Homo sapiens: one gene and its partner. The protein of the gene in region 2 interacts with the protein of the main gene of each other region in a pairwise test. Each region holds a gene or a part of one and is shown on either strand. Other genes may lie near its edges.

Region 1 (3,500 bases), on a different chromosome or scaffold from region 2:
ATTTTGGCAAGTCATTTGACGTCTCGGTATCAGAATCATCATCTGTAAAAAGGGATTTGGAAGAATACTTATTATTTATACAATCAAAGCATTAATTATAGAACAAAGCATCAATTTTTAAATATGATTTTGAATTCCAACAGGAACTAAGGACTTGGATTTAGTCATAAAAAGATAAGTTATCTATATACCTCAGACACAGAAAATCTGCTCAAACAAGCAAATGCTTTAGAATTGATGCCCCATTTGGACTAGATTACACTTTTTGAAGTTCCTTAGGATTTTAAGTTTAAATTACTGAGTTTGAATAAGCCTTTATACCCTCAGGCCAGCCCCAGTGTTTCAAAGTTAGCATGGGGAAACTGAAATACAGGTTAATAGTGAAAACTGGGCTTCAACATTTTGCGAGGGACCAAGTTTTGCTCAGTCTGCCAAGGCTGGAGTACACTGGCATGATCATGGCTCACTCACTGCAGCCTCAAACTCCTGGGCTCAAGTGATCCTTCAGCCTCAGCCTCCTGAGTAGATAGGACTACAGACATGCACCACCAAGCCCGGGTAATTCTTGTTTTTTGAGATGGGGTCTTGCTATGTTGTCCAGGCTGGCCTTGAACTCCTGGCCTCAAGCGATCCTCCCACCTTGGCCTCCCAAAGACCTGGGATTACAGGCGTGAGCCACCACACTCAGCCCATCCATCATGTTTTCTTAAAATAGACCTTATTTTTTAGAATAGTTTTAGAATTACAGAAAAATCTGAGAGGATAGTATGGAGAGGTCCCATGTATCCCAGTTTCTCCACTACTAACATCTAACATTAGTGTGGCACATTTGTTACAATTAATGACCAATACTGGTAACTTATTAATAAAAGTCAATAAAGTCATCTAAATGCCCTTAGTTTTTAACCTAATGTCCCTTTTCTGTTCCAGGATACCACATTCCATTAAGGTGCCATGTCTCTCTATGCTATTGTTGGCTGTGGCAGTTTCTCACTCCTTGAGGAGTACTAATCAGGTATTCTGTAGGATGCCTTGCTAATGGAATTTGTCTGCTTTCTTTTTTTTAAAATGATTACGCTGGAATTATGGATTACTGGGAGATAGACCAGAGGTAAATTGCCATTTTCATCACTTCTTATCAAGGGTACATACTATCAATATGATTTATGGTTGTTGATGTTGATCTTGATCACCTGGCTAAGTCTCTATCAGGTTTCAACACTATAAAGTTGTCTTTTTTTTTTTTTTTTTTTTTGAGATGGAGTTTCGCTCTTGTTGCCCAGGCTGCAGTGCAATGGCGCGATCTCGGCTCACCACAACCTCCGCCTCCCAGGTTCAAGCAATTCTCCTGCCTCAGCCTCCCGAGTAGCTGGGATTACAGGCACGCACCACCACGCCCAGCTAATTTTGTATTTTTAGTAGAGACAGGGTCTCTCCATGTTGAGGCTGGTCTCAAACTCCTGACCTCAGGTGATCTGCCTGCCTCAGCCTCCCAAAGTGCTGGGATTACAGGCGTGAGCCACCGCACCTGGCCTAAAGTTGTGCTTTTACTTTCCATACTTTACCTTTTGTAAGAAGTCACTATGTGCAGACCATGCTTAAGGAGTGCAGACTTATATTCCACCTCCTAGAGGGAGGAGTAGCTACATAAATAATTTGGAGTTTTACTGCTTCTTGGCCTTTTGGCTAAGATGAAGTCTAATAATTTGGAATTTTTCTGCACAGATTTGCCTCATCTCCTCTATTTAATAATTTATAACAGCATGAATTCATGGATATTTATTTTATACTCTGGGTTATAATTTTTTGTCCCCAAATAGTTTTCAGTTTTGGCTGTTGGGAGCTCTTTAAGTTGACGTGTGCCCCTTTGGCATACCCCTGTCAAGTGCGTGTGTTTAGGTTTTTTTAAGTACTTTCCTATTTTCCAGCACTACAAAATGCTCCAGGTTCATCTTGTATATTTCCTGCCCCAGACCTAGAATCAGCCATTTTCCCAAGGAGGCATTAGAAACCAAGAGCTGGGCACTGAATGTGCTCATGCTCACTGCTTCTGGGTGTCATTTCTTTTAGCCCCTCTCAGCTAACACAGCAAAGTGTGTGTGTACAGTACCACATATATATACACACACATATCTACAAGCATTCTGTATGTAGCCATCTGAATCTATAGTAAGCTAAACAGGAATTCATACCGATGTCTCTAACTCTCTAACTTAAGTGCAAGTTGTAAATTGTTATCATTCACCAATGCTGTAGAACAGAGGAACCAATAGAAGATCCAACATTGAAAAATACCAAATCACCCTCTGTTCTTTTCTTCCACACTATGTGGTATAGCTGAGTAGAACTGTGTCTAACACTATTCTTAACCTTTCAACATAAATACTCCAACTCTGAGTCACTCCTGCATTGCCACCAATTCCTAACCAACTAAAGTGGATTTAGGGCTGAGAGCCGTGGCTCACACCTGCAATCTCAGCACTCTGTGAGGCCAACATGGGAGGACTGCTTGAGGCCAGGAGTTCAAGACCAGCCTGGGCAACACAGCAAGACCCTGTCTTTACAAAAAAATTTTTAAAAATTAGCCAGGCATCGTGGTGCATGCCTGTAGTCCCAGCTACTCAAAAGGCTGAGTGGGAGGATTGCTTTAGCTCAAGAGGTCAAGAATGCAGTCAGCCATAATCCATGGAGTGAGACATGGCTGCATGGGTGACAGAATGAAGACTGTCTCCCCCTAACCCCACCCCCTTCAAAAAATGGACTTAGGAGAGTGCACTTTTTTATTTATATGTCAGAAATAATGTTAAAAGTTAAAATTACAGCCGGGCACGGTGGCTCAAGCCTGTAATCCCAGCACTTTTGGAGGCCAAGGTGGGCGGATCATGAGGTCAGGAATTTGAGACCAGCCTGACCAACATGGTGAAACCCTGTCTCTACTAAAAGTACAAAAATTAGTTGAGCGTGGTGGCGCACACCTGTAACCCCAGCTACTCAGGAAGCTAAGGCAGGAGAATTGCTTGAACCTGGGAGGCGGAGGTTGCAGTGAGCCAAGATCGCGCTGCTGCACTCCAGCCTGGGCGACAAAGCGAGACTCCATCTCAAAAAAAAAAAAAAAAAAAAAGAATAGTTAAAATTACTTGCTTTCTTAAAAAAATACAACTTTGTTTTCTTACATTGTAACAAATTTCAAAGACTTGTCTGTTTTGAAATCATCAATCCACATTTTACCCACATTTTCAAGTAAGGAATAAAAAATGTAAAAGCAGTTTAAAGAAACATATTTTCGAAAATATTAGATATACCTTTGTTGTCAAAATATTTTAAATCTGGCTGTCTCATAGAACAGACACTGTAACAATGATCAGAGAAAATTCCATTGAATCCATCTGCAATTCTGCTTATTCCAGAGGAATCTGAACATAAAATGAAAAATATTTCAAGTACAGTAAACATACATATTTAATGAGAAACTTCCCGTTATCTAACTTATACAAATGTTC
Region 2 (2,688 bases):
AGGAAATTCTGACATATGCTCCAACATTGATGAACCTTGAGAATATTATGCTAAGTGTGAAATAAGCTAGCTACAAAAAGACAAATACTTATTATTCTACTTATATGAGGTACCTAGAGTGGTCAAATTCATACAGACAGGAAGTAGAATGGTGGTTTTGAGGGGCTGGGGAAGGGAAAATGGGAAGTTATTGCTTGACAGGTACAGAATTTCAGTTTTGCAAGATTGAAGAGTTCTGGAGACGAATGGTGGTGATGGTTACATAACAATACGAATCTACTTAATACCATTGAAGTATACACTAAAAATGGTTAGGATAGTAAATTTCATGTTAAGTATATTTCATCAGATTTTTTTAACATTTTTAAATAAACCATAAAAAACTATGGTGCACTCACCCAGTATAGCACTACTCAGTAGTAAAAGGAATGAACTATATATACACACAGCATGGATGATTCTCAAGATAATTATGCTGCATGAAAGAAACCAGACCAAAAGAGAGTATAAATACTTTATGATTCCAATTGTGTTAATTCTAGAAAAGGCAAACAAATCTAAAGTAAAAAATGTAAATCAACGGTTTCCTAGGGAAGGCAAGGAGGGAATGTAAAGGGGCATGAGGTAGCTTTGCAGGTGATGGATACGTTCATTATCATGATTATGGTATTGGTTCCCTGAGTGTACATAATATATGTACAAAACTTACCAAATATGAATAATTATTGCATGACAATCACATATCAACAAAGCATTAAAAGAAACTGTTGCACATAAAAATCCAACTTCCTACTCATTTTAGAAAATCCGATTTGGCAACCCTATATTGACTCTGTCATCTCTTTCTTCTTGCCTTGGGAGCAAAGAATGGCTGGCTACGTCATAGATACTACAGTCCCTATAGTATAGGATCTGCTTTTTCTCAGTCCCTATTTTCCTGCCAGCACAGCACTGGCCTTCAGATGCACAGCACGGAGATGGTAATCCACAAAACCAAAACCTTTAGATTATTTGCTCTGCCAGTAACATTAGTCATAGGACAGAGGTCTGAGGTCCTGAGAATTTCTGCAAACCCTGAATCCTGCACAGCCACATTCAAGGGAGCATTCACGGATGCACATTTAGCAGAGTTCCATTTCTGCTGGTTTGCTATAATCTCGCCTACTCCCTATTAATCACATCCAGTGTTTCTGTACAAATTATGGTCCCAGCTGGGCCTGGTATGTCTTACAGTTAAGAGATACCTGCCTAATGCTGAACTTCAGGGCATATGGCTCCTTGGCAGGTGCTAAACAGCATCTGCTTTACAGTATTGGGGAATATGGGGCACCCCCTGGGAATAAGGGACCCAATTCATGCTGTTCCCACATGCACTGGAGGTTGTCACAACTGCCCCCTCCTCGGGATAAAAATTCACGCCATTCAGACCACAATATTATACCCATAAATTCCTACAATTTTTCCTAGGAGGCCTTGGTGGCAATGCAAATGAGGTCAAATCTGGATTGACAGTTGTTTCTCTGCCATCCTCCTGTCCCCTCCAAGATAATCTGGAGACCCCTTCAGTTTGGTAGATCTTAACTCTGCTCTTGAACCACCCCACACAGTGATCAGAACATGGAAGACTAAAGGCGGCTTTATCATAAGGCCATTATCATCACATGAACCAGGGCAATACACAGGAGATAAGTTGTTGTGTAGAGTAACATGAAGGCTGGACAAATCCTTCACAGGCATAACATGAGACCAACAATGTCCCAGAAAAAGGGAAACCTTCTCTAGAACAAGCTGTTGGCAAAACCCTGCTCAGGTCTTCACAGCCAAAAGCTGGTCATGTCCATGGCTAAACCAGCCATACAGGGCGGGAATGACATCTTCCCAAGGCTTCAGACTACTCCTAATTCCCTTTAGGGATTGGAAAGAGAGAGGAGAGGTCTGCCTTCCCTGAGCACAGTGGAGTGGTGGACACACTCTTTGGAGAGCTGCAGTGTGTGGTGCTGACATGGCTTCTATCACAACCCCAGCAGTGAAAAAACGCTGATAAACTCTACAGTAAGAGAATGTAACTTGTCTCCAGAAAGCTTCCAACACAGCTAGCATTCCTAGGGAACCTCCCCAGGGTGGGTACTTGGATGAACAAGTTTCAACTTGTAGTTGACAGCGCCCTGATAAGGTCTGTTCTCAGAGCTTATCTCTGGTGTGTGCTGTGAACAGGGAAGGAGCACATTCTCCATGCTCCTTTCTCTGATGTGAATCTTCTGATGCCGAATGAGGGTAGGCCTTTGGTTGAAGGCTTTCCCACATTCGCTGCATTCGTAAGGCCTGTCTGGTTTGTGAACTTTCAGGTGCTGCCTCAGATTGGACCTCTGCCTGAAGGTTTTCCCACATTCGCTGCACTCATAAGGCCGCTCGCCGGTGTGAAGTCTCCGGTGGTTATTGAGGCTGGAGCTTTGGTTAAAGAATTTCCCACATTCACTGCACTGGTAAGGCCGTTCACCAGTGTGAAGTCTCCGATGGCTATTGAGGCTGGAGCTCTGGCTAAATAACTTCCCACATTCATTGCATTCATAAGGCCGCTCACCAGTGTGAACTCGCTGATGTTTCATGAGGTCAGAGCTTCGGCTGAAGGCTTTCCCACACTCACCACACCCGTGAGGCCGCTCGCCAGTGTGAACTATCTGATGTTGA

Evidence for each region. Proteins that work in one complex are often made in the same cells at the same time.
Region 1: the proteins of ZNF792 (region 2) and ZNF639 interact in binary tests that used the Homo sapiens proteins (3 or more experiments, as listed by UniProt).

The regions. Positions count from the first base shown.
Region 1 is NC_000003.12:179,329,531-179,333,030, reverse strand, and holds part of ZNF639 (zinc finger protein 639), read right to left. Parts: intron 3,414-3,500; coding exon 3,303-3,413; intron 43-3,302; coding exon 1-42. UniProt on the Homo sapiens protein: Binds DNA and may function as a transcriptional repressor.
Region 2 is NC_000019.10:34,955,854-34,958,541, forward strand, and holds the end of ZNF792 (zinc finger protein 792), read right to left. Parts: coding exon 2,103-2,688; 3' UTR 501-2,102; downstream 1-500. UniProt on the Homo sapiens protein: May be involved in transcriptional regulation.